4 linked regions of the Homo sapiens genome follow. The protein of the gene in region 2 interacts with the protein of the main gene of each other region in a biochemical or structural test. Each region holds a gene or a part of one and is shown on either strand. Other genes may lie near its edges.

What was found. The genes of interacting proteins can lie anywhere in the genome.
Region 1: the proteins of TJP3 (region 2) and CIB2 interact in a test that uses a peptide from one of them, tested with the Homo sapiens proteins (one large-scale study listed by IntAct).
Region 3: the proteins of TJP3 (region 2) and EZH1 interact in a test that uses a peptide from one of them, tested with the Homo sapiens proteins (one large-scale study listed by IntAct).
Region 4: the proteins of TJP3 (region 2) and TRMT13 interact in a test that uses a peptide from one of them, tested with the Homo sapiens proteins (one large-scale study listed by IntAct).

Annotation. Positions count from the first base shown.
Region 1 is NC_000015.10:78,121,197-78,125,310, forward strand, and holds part of CIB2 (calcium and integrin-binding family member 2), read right to left. Parts: intron 2,544-4,114; coding exon 2,509-2,543; intron 1-2,508. UniProt on the Homo sapiens protein: Calcium- and integrin-binding protein that plays a role in intracellular calcium homeostasis. Acts as an auxiliary subunit of the sensory mechanoelectrical transduction (MET) channel in hair cells.
Region 2 is NC_000019.10:3,746,384-3,749,462, reverse strand, and holds part of TJP3 (tight junction protein ZO-3), read right to left. Parts: intron 2,979-3,079; coding exon 2,768-2,978; intron 2,688-2,767; coding exon 2,587-2,687; intron 1,670-2,586; coding exon 1,382-1,669; intron 1-1,381. UniProt on the Homo sapiens protein: TJP1, TJP2, and TJP3 are closely related scaffolding proteins that link tight junction (TJ) transmembrane proteins such as claudins, junctional adhesion molecules, and occludin to the actin cytoskeleton.
Region 3 is NC_000017.11:42,734,792-42,738,905, forward strand, and holds part of EZH1 (histone-lysine N-methyltransferase EZH1), read right to left. Parts: intron 1-4,114.
Region 4 is NC_000001.11:100,139,298-100,143,411, reverse strand, and holds part of TRMT13 (tRNA:m(4)X modification enzyme TRM13 homolog), read right to left. Parts: intron 3,764-4,114; coding exon 3,701-3,763; intron 3,231-3,700; coding exon 3,161-3,230; intron 3,005-3,160; coding exon 2,898-3,004; intron 2,561-2,897; coding exon 2,393-2,560; intron 276-2,392; coding exon 203-275; exon of another isoform or gene 198-202; intron 1-197. UniProt on the Homo sapiens protein: tRNA methylase which 2'-O-methylates cytidine(4) in tRNA(Pro) and tRNA(Gly)(GCC), and adenosine(4) in tRNA(His).

The DNA.
Region 1 (4,114 bases), on a different chromosome or scaffold from region 2:
CATGTTTAATAACACCATCACCCAGCCCTCCCAGACACAGGGGCCTGTGAGAAAACAGCTCCTGCAAGCAATGTCATCCCCATGCTGCAGACGGGGCCTCAGGCTTGGGTTTTGCTCTGGTGTTGAATTACAGAGCCTAGGGTCCTGATGCGTGCAGAGGGGTGCAGGCCAGGGCTGTGGGGAGCCAGGACGCCTCTCCTCAAGCCCTCTCACCTGCCTGGAGCCCCTCATTTTCCAAGGGGCCAGGGATACCCCTGATATGGTTTGGCTGTGTCCCTACCCAAATCTCATCTTGAATTGTAGTTCCCATAATCCCTACGTGTCATGGGAGGGACCTGGTGGGAGGTAATTGAATCATGGGGGCAGTTACCCCGAGGCTGTTCTCATGATAGTGAGTTCTCACGAGATCTGATGGTTTTATAAGGGGCTTCTCCCCCTTTGCCCAGCACTTCTCTTTCCTGCCGCCATGTGAGGAAGGATGTGTTTGCCTCCCCTTCTGCCATGATTGTAAGTTTCCTGAGGCCTCCCCAGCCATGTGGAGCCATGAATCAATTAAACCTCTTTCCTTTATAAATTACCCAGTCTCAGGCAGTTCTTTATAGCAGCATGAGAATGGACTAAAACAACCACCAAAGGCCCATCATATTGGATCGGATTCCCGGACTGGCCTTCAAGCTCCTCTCTCCTCTTCCCCACACAGGCAATCTTGCTGCTGTCAATGAGACCACGGGAGGATGGGGGTGGGAGTGGGAGCAGGAGAAGCTGGCCTGTGTCTCACCTCTGCTGCTCCCCAGCCTGGAATGTTCTCCCTCAGCCAATCCTACCTGTCTTTCACCCACACACTCTTCATATGGTCACTGGTGGCTAACAGGTGCCATGCTCCCTGTTAGTCCTGCCTGATCACAAGTCTGGTGGGGAGCTGGGCCCCTGGGTCCAGGAACCCAAGGAGCCCCTAACAGGCTGTTAGAGCAGCTGGGATAGCACTAGGGTGGCAGGGTGTTGGGGGTGCTTATAAAGGAGATGATTCTGGAGTTGGGTCTGGAAGGATGCATAGCAATGCTGTGGGCAGAGGAGAGGCGAAGGACACTCCAGGGAGTGGAGATAGCCAGTGCAAAGGCCGAGGCAAGGGGCTTTTGTTGCCAGAATGAAAATGGCCGTGGGCCTCAGAAGACAGGCAGCTTGGGCTTGGCATCTACAAAGGTAGGGAACCCGAAGCTCCCTGTGAGGCTCAAATGAGGCTCCATGCCAAGAACTCTGAAAGGTAAAAGGTGCCACAAGAATGCCAGGGGTGACAGCTTTGTTATTCCAATACCGAGAGCCATCCTGTCGAAATGGGGACCTCACCCCTGACATCTCTCAAGCTACAGGGCAAATCCCACTTATCAAACACTATACCCCAGTGTTGCTGCCTCTCGGCAATGCTATGAGGGTAGGTTTCACTATCCCTATTATACAGAAGAAAACTGAGGCTCAGGGAAGGTCAAATGGTTGCCCAAGGCCACAGATGCCAGGTCTACTGATGCCAGGCCTGGAGGCTTTGCCCCTTGCTCAGACTCTCTAAGGTGGTGGAAGTGGGGTATCCCCTGCCCATGCAGGTGACAGGTTGGAATAGCAGCCTGGGTAGAGAGGAAAGCCGAGAGGCACTGCCTGAATGAGCAGAATGGTTAGGGCAGTGACAAGCTGCAGCACAGCTCTCTTGGGAAGCTGCAATGGGCTCTGGTCCCAGCCTGACCATCGATCTCCAGGGCAAGTGATCCTGGGACTTTGCTGGCTTTTAGTGCCACCCAGGCAGAGGGGCCTAGTGAGGCCCGTGGGGCAGTTTTCTTGGTATTCAGTGATTCCTGCTCACCCACTGGTCCTGGGGTTCTGAGGCTGCCGATCCCCTTTATCTTTCCCATCCAGGTCCACCCCCACCCCCATCAACACCAAGGAGAAGGGCTGTCCTGGGAAGAAGCAGAGCCCTGATGAATAGCTCAGGGGTGGTGGCCATGCCCTCAACTTTTAGACGTCCTAGGAGTGGAAGAACATCAAAGCTAGAGCCAAAGGGCCCTTAGGGACCCCTGGTCTAACAGACAGGGACTCCCTGCTATACCAGGACCCAGGATGCAGTGAAATAGCAAGGGACCTGGAGTCAGAGGCTGGGTCTTGAGTCCCTGGCTCTGTGACTTTAGCCAAGTTGCTAAGCTCCATCTGTCAAATGGGGATAAATGGATTCTCTTGTTACAAGGTCACAATGAGGATTAAATAAGAATGTGCCGGAAACTACCCACCTGAAAGCTCATAGTAAGTAGATGTTCATTCCCCAGCAGGAGGATCTGGGCCCTGGGAGGAGTGGGAAGCTCTAACTCCATCCTAGCCCAGTGGCCGAGTGGGGACCTGAATGTGGCTCCTGATACATGCTGATGCTCTGCCTCAGCCCCAGGAGCACAGCCAGCCCATGTGGGGTGCCCCAGCCTCACCCCGGCCCCAGTCCCAGTCCCAACAGGGTGAACGAGAAGCCACACTTACTTGAGGATGTCCTTCTTATTGAAGAAGGTGCAGTCCTGTTGAGGGAAAACACACAACACACAGTCAGTGTGCGGCTCCCAGACTTTCTTCCTCAGAGGCCTCGATGCCACAGGGCTCACAGGGGATAGCTCCGGACTGGGGACAGAAGAGTCACTACTATCCCTTTCCACCTTGCCCTCACCCACTGGGGACAGCTGGCTCTAGTAGGTATAGAAAATGCCTCCCAAAACCTTTATCCATCCTGGGCTAGGCCTAAGGAGCTTAGTGCATGGTGGGGGGCTGTAGCATGCTTTAGGGTACACATGTAGGAGGAAGATGAATGCTCACAGGTATGCGTGGCTGATTTGAGTGCCAGTGGGATACACTGGGGGATGACAGGGAGGTGGCTGGGAGACAACTCCGAATGAGGACCCACAGGGCCACCTCGTGTAGCTGCATGGGGTGCCATCCTCACTGTAGCCCTGAGCATGGTGCTAGGGGGGTTGTGCAGTCCCAGGCTCAGAGACTGAGAGTTCCAGGCACATAGACTGGGGAAGCATCAGTATATACTTGGTGTCTGAAGCCAGAAAGGGATGAGGTCACCCAGAGAAGGGAGTGAAGAGGCCAGGGAGATATGGGAGGGAGAAACGTGGGCAGGGGGAACCAGGTAGCATCTGGGGTAGAGGTGAGGGTAGGGGCTGCTGGGGATCCCCAGGTAAGCATTACTCCAGGTGGGGGGCAGCACTTGGCTCCTAGGGCCATCCAGATGACAAACTCATCTCGGAGGGGTCCTGTCTTTGTTTAGATGAACTGCCTCTATCCACAGCTTGGCCTGCCCAAGGTGAGTATCAACCACTGGGAGTCAGTGACAATGGCCACTATGCCAGCCCTTGGTGAAAAGTATAGAGGTGAAGAGGACCCAGCACTTTGTAAAATGCCCAACCGTAAAGGGCTTTTGTGCACCTCCCCTGCTGTTTAGCTCCTCCGCCTTTGTCCACTGTTACAGCATGAAGCAAGAAGGCCTCCTAGGTCTGCAGAGCCCAGAGCCCATAGGGCCTCCTGGGGCCATAAGCTGACCAGAGCCAGCTCTGATGAGGAGTGAATGGCTGAAACTCAGGCCTGCAAACAGCCAGGCTTGCCCTGAATGAGACCTGAAGCCGCTGGACATCAGGGCAATTGGATTGCGTGTTAAGAGGCCCAAAGAGAGGACGCCTGCAGGATGCACACAACATCTGGGGTTTCCACTGGGTGCCTTCGGGAGAGCTGAAAAGGGGAGAGCTGGTGGGAATTTCCAGGCCCCATTTGGCCCAACAAGTCTGTCCTTCTAAGCTGCTGCTCCCTGGGAGTTAGACTAAGGATCCATGCTGGCTTCTTGGAAACACGAGGGGTTCTCCTGGGGGTCTCAGCTTTGCTTTTGACAGTGGTTCCTCTGTAGGAGCCCAGAAAGGCTCAGGCTGGGGAAGCAGTGCCCCCTGCTCCTCACCCAACACAGACAGAAAACTCCCTACTTAGCAGGCCTCAGGCACAGACAGGCTGGAGACACAGTGGGCTGATTTATCAGCAAACTCCAGAAACATGGTGCAGAATGTGGACTTCCCTCCACCCCAGGGCCGTTTCCATGGTCTAA
Region 2 (3,079 bases):
GAGGCTGAGATGAGAGGCTCCCTTTAGCTCAGGAGTTGGAGGCCGCAACGAACTATGATTGTACTACTGCACTCCAGCCTGGGCAGCAGGGCAAGACCCTATCTCTAAAATTTAAAAAATAAAATATATAAATTAGATAGGTCAAGTTCAAAAAGACACGCAACTACTATGTGCCAAAACTTGGGCTGAGCACATTGAGTGCTCACCACCGCCCTGTGCCACCAAGTCTGATACCATCCACCCTGTGTCCTAGATGAGGAAACAGGTGCACAGAGAGGTTAAAATGTTGGCTGGAGGCCAGGTGCGGTGGCTCACGCCTCTAATCCCAACACTCTGAGAGGCCGACGTGGATCACCTGAGGTCAGGAATCGGAGACCAGCCTGGCCAGCGTGGTGAAACCCTGTCTCTACTAAGAATACCTTAAAAAAAAAAAAAAATTAGCTGGGCATGGTGGTGCTCACCTGTAATCCCAGCTACCTGGGAGTCTGAGGGAGGAGAAACGCTTGAACACAGGAGGCCGAGGTTGCAGTGAGCCCAGATCGTGCCACTGCACTCCAGCCTGGGTGACAGAGCGAGACTCTAACTCAAAAAAAAAAAAAAAAAAAAAAAAAAAAGGCCGGGTGCAGTGGCTCACACCTGTAATCCCAGCACTTTGGGAGGCCGAGGCTGGAGTTCCAGACCAGCCTGACCAACATGGAGAAACCCTGTCTGTACTAAAAATACAAAATCAGCCAGGCATGGTGGTGCACGCCTGTAATCCTAGCTACTCAGGAGGCTGAGACAGGAGAATCGTTTGAACCTGGGAGGCGGAGGTTGTGGTGAGCCGAGATCACGCCATCGCACTCCAGCCTGGGCAACAAAAGCGAAACTCCATCTCAAAAAAAAAAAAAAAAAAGCCTGGGTGCAGTGGCTCATGCCTGTAATCCCAGCACTTTGGGAGGCCAAGGCGGGTGGATTACAAGGTCAGGAGTTCAAGACCAGCCTGACCAATGGTGAAACCCCGTCTCTACTAAAAATACAAAAATTAGCCGGGCATGGTGGCAGGTGCCTGTAATCCCAACTACTCAGGAGGCTGAGGCAGGAGAATCGCTTGAACCTGGGAGGTGGAGGTTGCAGTGAGCCAAGATTGCGCCATTGCACTCCAGCCTAGGCGACAGAGCAAGACTGCGTCTCAAAAAAAAAAAAAAAAAAAAAATGCTGCAAGTTACTCAGTGCCACGTGGGTCTCAGCTACCCCAGGTCTGAGTCCCAGAAACCAGTCTGACCAGGGAAGCCGTGTTTGTTGACGTCCTGGTAGAAAACAGGCTCCCAGTGTGTGTCTGCTCTGTGCTGGCATCCCCTCCGGAGACCCTTCCCAGGCCTGCCCCCCATGTCCGACGCACCTGGGCCCCCTGATGAGCCGAGATTCTCCCACGATCCCTCGGGCTCTGGGACTCATCTGCCTGCACGGGCTCCGAGGACCGGGCCAGGGCTGGAGCCGGGGGCTCATCATCCACATCCGTGTAGGGCCCCCCCTCGCCGTCTGTGTAGCCCTCGCCATCCGTGTACGCGCCGCCCTCGCCGTCCGTCTCGTAGTCGCTGTTAACGCGGCTGTCGCAGCTGAGGTCAGCGGAGCTGTCGGCCAGGCCGTGGTGAGGGAGGTCTAGGTTGTCCTCCAAGGAGCCATCCAGCTGTGGGGTGGGTGTGGATGCTGCGGCTGGCCCTGGCCAGGACCCCAGCTGCCACCCACGACATCCCCCCACCTTCAAACTCTGGTCCCAAATCAAGGCGAGGAGCCTGGAGCCTGGAGCCTCAGTGGAGGCTTCTCTGTTGACTCCAGGATGGGTTGTATCCATTGACCCTTCACCTGAGAGGCTCAGCCCCCAAATCCAAGCTGAGCCCCAAACCTTGACTCCAGCCCCAAGAGAAGACTCCATTCTCTCTCTCTTTTTTATGAGAAGGAGTCTCTGTTGCCAGGCTGGAGTGCTGTGGCGCAATCTCTGCTCACTGCAACCTCTGCCTCCCGGGTTCAAGTGATTCTCCTGCCTCAGCCTCCTGAGTAGCTGGGACCATGGGCGTGAGCTCCCGTGCCCCACTGACTCCATTCTCAAAACAGCTCCTCCAGGCTGGGCGCGGTGGCTCAGGCCTGTAATCCCAGCACTTTGGGAAGCTGAGGCAGGTGGATCGCCTGAGGTCAGGAGTTTGAGCCCAGCCTGGCCAACATGGTGAAACCTCGTCTCTGCTAAAAATACAAAAATTAGCTGGGCCTGGTAGCGCTCGCCTGTAGTCCCAGCTACTCGGGAGGCTGAGGCAGGAGAATCACTTGAACCCGGGAGGCGGAGGTTGCAGCAAGCTGAGATCACACCACTGTACTCCAGCCTGGGTGACATGAGACTCCATCTCAAATCAAACAACAAAAAACAGCTCCTCCAATCTCATCTCACCCAAGTTCCAGTCCAACACCCTTGTCTCAGGTCCCATCTTGACTCTGGCCACAGTCCTGATCCCTGACCAAGCCCTAACTCCCGACAGAGGCCCCAAACCCCAGCTGGGCCTGCACAGCGTCTGTGGGGCCTCCCTGCCCGACCCACCCACACCGCGGCAGTACCTGATCTTCCGCCGTCCAGATGGGCCGCGTCTGCTGCTCTCGAATGATGGCCTTGAGCTCCTGGTACCAGGTGTCACTCGTGCCATTCAGAGGGATGGTGGCTGCAGGGAGGGGACGTCAGTGTGTGCAGGAGACTCAGGCTGGGGCCCACCCGCCTACCCTGGGACACCCACCCCCCAACCTGTGAAGAGGTGGCTGCTGTGTTTTCGCAGCTTCTGGGCTTGTGCGTAGAGGCGACGGGTGCTGCGGCGGGAGGCAGGCGCCAGCCACTGGCGCAGTGCCTTGAGGGCCGGCCGGCTCTCGGGGATGAAGAAGACCACAATGGGGTAGTACTGCACATAGTTGAGGCGCTCGATGGCGGAGGGGGTCACATCCAGGAGCGCATGCTTGTCCTGGGCCAGGCCGGCGGACGTTGGGGTGAGGGGGATTGCAGCAGGGTAAACAGAGAGAGAAAGATAGAAAGATGAAGAGTCTGAGGTCAGAGTGGACCCCA
Region 3 (4,114 bases), on a different chromosome or scaffold from region 2:
GAAACCAGCCTGGCCAACATAGTGAAACACATCTCTACTAAAAACACAAAAATTAGCCGGGTGTGGTGGTGGGTGCCTGTAATCCCAGCTACTTCGGAGGCTGAGGCAGGAGAATCGCTTGAACCTGGGAGGCAGAGGTTGCAGTGAGCTGAGATCGCGCCACTGCACTCCAGCCTGGGTGACAGAGTGAGACTCGGTCTCAAAAAAAGAAGAGGAAAGAAAAGAAAAGAAAGGAAGAAAGGAAGGAGGGCGGGAGGGAGGGAAGGAAACAGAAAGGCAGGGAGGGAAAGAAAAGAAAAAAGAAGTATTAAGTAATGGAATAGAACATAATCTACAGATGCTGTCGTGTCTGGCTGGCTGTGGTGGCTCATGCCTGTCATCCCAACACTTTGGGAGGCTGAGGCGGGTGGATCACTTGAGGCCAGGAGCTCGAGACCAGCCTGGCCAACATGGTGAAACCCTGACTCTACTAAAAATACAAAATTTAGCAGGCCATGTTGGCACACACCTGAAACTCAGCCATAAGATGAGTTTTCACCACAGCTGGACCCTAACCAACAATTATCATATCAAAGTTAAAAAAAAAAAAGGGAACAAATAAAAAACTTAGCATTCACTAGAACAGGCAGATTTGGAGAGATGGATTCATTGGTGTTGGGCAAAGGGAGTGGCACACAAAAAAATACTTTATATTTCTACCAGATCTATTATTTAGTTACTTACACATGCAAAACAGCACTTATATTCCAGTTAGGTACTTAGCTAGTACTTAACAGCCTTTCATTATGTTCATCTACACATTGAAGATAAACTCCAAAACATATGCTGTTTTGATCAAGAAATTAAAAAATATTTATATAAGCAAGTCCTATAGCTCAATAATAAGACAAATCACCAATAAAAAGTGAGCAGAAGGCTGGATGTGGTGGCTCATGCCTGTAATCCCAGCACTTTGGGAGGTCAAGGCGGGTGGATCACAAGGTCAGGAGTTCGAGACCAGCCTGACCAACATTGTGAAACCCCATCTCTACTAAAAATACAAAATTAGCCAGGCGTGGTGGCGTCTGCCTGCAATCTCAGCTACTCAGGAAGCTGAGGCAGGAGAATTGCTTAAACCCAGGAGGCAGAGGTTGCAGTGGGCCAAAATCGTGCCACTGCACTCCAACCTGGGAGACAGCGAGACTCCGTCTCAAAAAAAAAAAGAGCAGAAATTTGAACAGCTATGTCACCAGAAAAGATACAGGAATGGCAAATGAGCACACAAAAGGTTGCTCCATATCATTAGTCATTAGGGAAATGCAGATGAAAAATACAATGAGATACTATTAAACACCACTACCATGGCTAAAATGAAAAAAGACTGATAATACAACTTGTTGGTGAGGACGTGAAGCAACTGGAATCCTCATACACTGCTGGTAGGAATGCAAAGTGATATAGCCACTGTGGAAGGCAGTTTGCCAGTTTTTCAAAAATAAAGCTGAATATATACTTACCACAGAACCTGGCATACAATTTCTAATTATTTATCCAAGAGAATTGAAAACCTATGTCTCCACAAAGATCTGTACCCAAATGTTCATATTTATTTATAATAGCCAAAAGTGAAAACAACACACATATCAATGGATTGGCTAATGGATACAAAATGTAGTGTGTATAGATATATACACACACAATGGAATACTATTCAGCAACAAAAAGCCATGAATAGTTTCTATACATTCACACCACATCTCAAGACCATTAAAAGACTATGCTGGTTGAGTGCAGTGGCTCACGCCTGTAATCCCAGCACTTTGGGAGGCTGAGGCAGGCAGATCACTTGAGATCAGGAGTTCGAGACCAGCCTGGCCAACATGGTGAAACCTCATCTCTACAAAAATACAAAAATTAGCTGGGCATGGTGGTGTGCACTTGTAGTCTCAGCTGCTTGGAGGCTGAGGCAGGAGAATCGCTTGAACCTAGCAGGGCAGAGATTGCAGGGAGGTAGAGATTGCAGTGATCTGAGAATGCGCCACTGCACTCCAGCCTGGGGAACAGAGCGAGACTCTGCCTCATTAATAATAATAGTAATAATAAAATGAAACCACCATACTAAGTGAAAAAAATAAGACGCAAATAACTGCATATGATTCCACTTAAGATGTTCTGCTGGCCAGTTGCAGAACAGGAACTCCCTGTACTAGCTTTACAATTTTTTTTTTTTTTTGAGACAGAGTCTCGCTCTGTCGCCCAGGCTGGAGTGTAATGATGCAATCTCGGCTCACTGCAACCTCCACCTTCTGGGCTCAAGCGATTCTCCTGCCTCAGCCTCTTAAGTAGCTGGGATTACAGGCACATGCCACCGCGCCGAGCTAATTTTTGTATTTTTAGTAGAGACAGAGTTTCACCATGTTGCCTAGGCTCGTCTTGAACTCCTGACCTCAGGTGATCCACCCGCCTTGGCCTCCCAAAGTGCTGGGATTACAGGCGTGAGCCACCGCGCCCAGCCTACAATTTTTAAAATAAATCTAAAACTATTCTAGGGCAGGCGTGATGGCTCATGCCTGAAATTCCAACACTTTTGGAGGCTGAGGCAGGTGGATCTCTTGGGCCCAGTTGTTCGAGACCAGCCTGGACAACATGGTGAGATCCCATCTCTACAAAAGAAATACAAAAATTAGTTGGGCATGGTGGCGTGTGCTTCTAGTCCCAGCTACCAGGGAGGCTGAGGTGAGAAGACAGATGGAGCCTGCACGATCAAGGCTGCAGGAGCAAGCTGTGACTGCGCCATTGCACTCCAGCCTGGGTGACAGAGTGAGACCCTGTTTCAAACAAACCAAAAACAAACAAACTATTCTTTCTTTTTTTTCTTTCTTAAAAAACAAACTATTCTAAAAAATAGAGTTTATTTTTTAAAAAGATTAATCATTGGAAATACGAACCACTTTATTTACTGTCACATCTCTACAGGAAAAGAAAGCTATAAAAATGTAGCAATCTTTCCCCAGAAAACTGGATCTCAATTTGCTGCAAAGGCTAAAACTAGAATGTAGTCTGTCACTAGGTGGAAATGGGAAAACATTACTGAAATTGTATGGCAATAAAAAATTTAAGGAACGGCTGGGTGCGGTGGCTCACGCCTGCAATCACAGCACTTTGGGAGGCCGAGACAGGCGGATCACGAGGTCAGGAGATCAAGACCATCCTGGGTAACACAGTGAAACCCCGTCTCTACTAAAAATACAAAAAATTAGCTGGGCATGGTGGCGGGCACCTGTAGTCCCAGCTACTCAGGAGGCTGAGGCAGGAGAATGGCGTGAACCCAGGAGGCGGAGCTTGCAGTGAGCCGAGACGGTGCCACTGAACTCCAGCCTGGGCGACAGAGCAAGACTCTGTCTCAAAAAAAAAAAAAAAAAAAAAATTTAAGGAACAAGTTCTTAAACTTAGAGAGACTGAGATCAGAATACAAAAGTTCCAAACTATTAAATTTTTTCATCTACATAAGGTGTCCCTTTGCAGAAACAGCTTCTTTGTCTTAGGGGCAAATTCAGTGTCTTTGATAGTTTCTCTTGAATAATAATTTTATTAACCAGCAAGGCTAAGTAAGCCTTTGGAGGCAGATGGCACTACAGATTTTTATTTTTTAATTTTATTTATTTGTATTTATTATTTGTATTTATTATTATTTTTTGAGACGGAATCTCGCTCTGCTGGGATTACAGACGTGAGCCACCGTGCCCAGTCTATTTTTTTTATTTTTTTTTGAGATGGAGTCTCACTCTGTTGCCAGGCTGGAGTGCGTTGGTGCAATAACAGCTCACTGCAACCTCTGCCCCAGCTAATTTTTGTATTTTTAGTAGAGACAGGGTTTCACCATCTTGGCCAGGCTGGTCTGGAACTCCTAACCTCAGGTAATTCACCCACCTTGGCCTCCCAAAGTGCTGGGATTACAGGCGTAAGCCACCGGGCCTGGCCTAGATTTTTTTTTTTTTTTTTTTTTTGAGAAGGAGTCTCACTCTGTCACCCAGGCTGGAGTGCAGTGGTGCTATCTCAGCTCACTGCAATCTCCACCTCCTGGGTTCAAGCGATTCTCTTGCCTCCACCCCCCCTGAGTAGCTGGGACTATGCT
Region 4 (4,114 bases), on a different chromosome or scaffold from region 2:
ATACTGAAAATTTTTAAAATTCTCAACCTTAATTCAATTTACATCTATTTAAAAACATTATATAAAACATTCTATATTAACAATGAATTGATTTGACTGTTTTCCCTGAAGCACAGTTCTGCATGATTGGATTTCTAAGCAACCTCAGAGTTTAAAACAGTTATGATTTATTTGTAGACCAATGGAAAGTTACACAACTTACTCAAACACAAGTGTTGAATATCAATTTGAAGTCTTTCAAACACTGAATTTTTCTTTCTGTGTTTTCCATCCACCTGCACAAACAGAACATTATTGTAATAATCACTTCTTACATTTAAAAAAGCTTTATGAAAATAAAAAGATTTTTATTGGTTTTCAAAATTCAGAGCAACAGAACATATTTAAAAATTAAGATTGTACATTCTTTGATGAGAACTTCAAAATATCACACTTTTTAAAAAAGATTTGAAAATGTTTATCAATTATTACATAGACATTATTTCCTTTAACCCTAAAAATTCCCAATTCACTGACAAAGGAACTGAAGTTCACAGATCTTAAGTGATTTATCTAAGATTGTCTACTAGCTCCTTTATCTTTGTCACTCCTGGTGTACTATTTTTGGTTCGCTCCTCTTCTTGCTCTCCTGAAAGATCACAACCATTCTAATCTATACCTATGTGCCCACGACCGGCTGATCTACATTTGTGGCTCAGGCCTCTCCAATGGGCATCAGACACATACTCAATTGTGAACTAGAAAGCTCTACTTCACCAGCAAACTGGACACATTCAGAACTGAACTCATTATTTCTGTCTCCAAAACCATCCTTCCTCTTGTGCCTCCTTCATTCCTTATCTCAGGAAAGAACACCACTTAGTCACCTAAGCCATAAAAATCCTACCGAGAATTACTCCTTATCTCTCATATTCAATTACTAACAAATCACCAACTCTTGTGGCTTCCAACATCTTAATATTTCTCATACTCTTGCCCTCCTCTCCATCCCAATGCAATAGCTTTAGCTCTGGCCTCTTTCTTACTTGGATTGTTGGACAAAAATTATCTTTATTATTAATCTCTCTAAGTATCAGACTCTTCTAATATAGTTTTAATGGTGCTGCTAGGATAAACTTTGAAAAATTTCCTTCTACTTTACCAACTCTTACATATTATTTCAATCTCATCTCAACTGTCACTTCTGCAAAAACTTCTATGACCCACACTAGACTGAGGTTGGTGCTCTATCTTCATGCTCCCATAGGATTGGGTACTTACCACTATCAAAACACACTTAGCATACTGAACACAAATATTTATATGTCTACTCCACTAGACGTAAGCTTCCTCAAAGCCAAGAACTAAATCTTTTTTCTATTGTATCCCCACCAGACAGCAGCATAGTCAAACTCCTTCCTTAGCATAAAATATGAGACCTTCTATAGGCTAGCCATCCTCTCCAGTCCCATCATTGCTGAACTCTACTTTGCACCATGTACTCCCATTATACAGGAATGTTTCCATATTTTCCTGTTATTTCAGGTATTTGGTTACACTGTTCTTGCTTCCTAGAATGCTTCTCAAACTCTCTAACAAACACCAATTCACCTTTCAAGATTTAGTTCAAGCATCACCTTTTCTACATAGTCATTCTCCATCTCTTCCCTGCAATAGAACTTGTCACTCCCTTCTTTGAAACCATGCTGTACTCTGTGCAGACCTTTCTCGTATTTTAACACTTCACTACAATCATTTATGTATTTGCCTGGGTCTCTTTTCTAAATATAAGTAATAAAGTGGCTGGGCACAGTGGCTCACACTTGTAATTCCAGCACTTTGGAAGGGTAAGGTGGGAGGATGGCTTAAGCTCAGGAGTTCGACACCAGCCTGGGCGACAAAGTGAGACCCTGTCTCCACAAAAAATTTTAAAAAATTACCTGGGCATGGTGGCGTGGGACTATAGTCCCAGCTACTCATGAGGCTGAAATGGGAGGATTATATGAGCCCAGGAGGTCAAGGCTGCAGTGAGCCACGATCCTGCCACTGTACTTCAGCCTGGGTGGGGCCTGGCAGTATGCTCAAAAATTGTTTAATGAATGAAGGGCAAGTGGCAAAGATAGGAGTAGAGCCCAAGACTTTTAACTCCTAGCTTGAGCTTGGCTCTTTCTATATATTTTCCTGTCTCTGCAAATAATTTTAAGAATTCAGATCAATGGACTATCAAAACTTAGATTAAAAAATTCACCTTCAGTTTGAGTTATCAATACAATTAGAACTAATAAAAAGCTACAACAAACAGATAAAGAAAATTCCTTTCCTTTCTTTTAAGAAATGTTTCTATCACTTTTTTCCTGAATACAAAAAATGAAAACAAGTTTGGTTACTAACACAGAGCAATGGTTTCACTTACCTTGAATCTTGTGGTCACCTTTTCCACTAGGATGAAGTGAACTTTTTCAGCATCTTTTAAGGCAATATCAACCCAATGAGATAATTTTCCCTTTCCCGCTCCAAACTCAACAAAGCATCTTCTTGGACCAAGTAACTTTAAATTTTCAATGTTACCTAAAATAGAAGCCTGCAAACTTCACAAGATTATTTTATAAACTAGAGTAAACACATTTGGTTCAAATGGGAAAACAGCAAGGTAATTTCTGCATAAGGCAGTATGCTTACATTGATAATTTGTATTTGACTTAAAATTTTTCTCTCTTGCCTTTAAATATTTAATATACGGTACTCAGAATCACATCCATGCCCTCAATTTTTTGTATATGTTTCTATATATTTTTGAAATGGAAATATTTGGTACCCTCAAAGGTAAACAAAATAAAATCTTATTAATAATTACATTTAAAACAGTTTTAACAAATGAACAAAGGCCATGTTTAGTAGTTACTATAGCCTAAACATACCTGCTGTTTCAGGTGCTTGGTTGCAGAATCGCCATTTTTAGGGTCATTAAGTGCATCGTGTAATGCTGGATGGGACATAATATGATCTTTAAGTGTAGAATTCAAGCCTGTGCCAAATATAAGCACAACAGCTTAAGCAGCCAAACATGTAATTGTAGGATTCTGAACAATAGTAGTAACATATTTTAAACCAGAATGGTATCAACTCATATACCACCTAATTACTCTAAAATAATTGAACTTGCAACTTTAGGCAGTCTTACCTTCACTTGCTTTTCTCAATTTCTTAATTAACTTTTCCAACTGCTCTTCAGATAGAGAAGAAATTGGAACCTATATACAAAAATAAAACTAAATAATGTAGCCAAAAATTGCTTTAAAGTAGCATAACAGAGACTGAGTAGAGGTTTACCAACTGGGCAAATCCCATGACAGCTTAGGCTCTTCTCTCTATCAAGCCTTTTCCCTAAGCTGCCATCAGAATTGTCCAACTGCTAAATTTCTACTCCGTCTTTGCTGTGCTACTTTAATTTTCCTAACTTCCTCAAGGTCAAGAACAAGTCTAGGCTCAGAAGGGTTCAAGAATCAAAGGGGATTCAGGGCCATATTGTAGCTTCTTTTGTTATGGGGCATGAGCTGGTCTGGGTCTAGGAACTAACCATCACTAACAATATTAAGTCTACAGGAAAATGCATTCTAAATTAAAAACAGACTTGAGACAAAAATTAGAACATGCCTTATTCACATCATGAAGAGAGCTTATAAATATCTTTTAAAATTAAATATTAAGTCAATGTACTTACTAATTGTTCAGGTATTTCTGTTTCATCTCTTAAGCCTGCATTAATATCTTGAATATAGAAATCCTTAACAAAAACAAAACCATAAAAGAACTGTTAATAATGTGTAGCTCACAAAAATTAAACTAAAATACTGATTCTTCCCTTTATCCCCTGCTCTGTACCTGCCATCCTCCCTTCCTCCATTCATTTCTTCATGAAATCACTATTGAATATTTACTCTAGGCCCTAGTTTGCTTTAGGTATTGGGCACTCCACCACAGTAGATAACAAAAGTGACAAAAATATGTGTTCGTGGATCTTATATTCTAGTGAGGTGATTATCTGAATAAGCACTTACAGTTTAAAGAAATTCATTTGTAACACTTATTAAAAGTTCTACAGCCTAGACTGTTGACAGCATACACTGAGAACTGT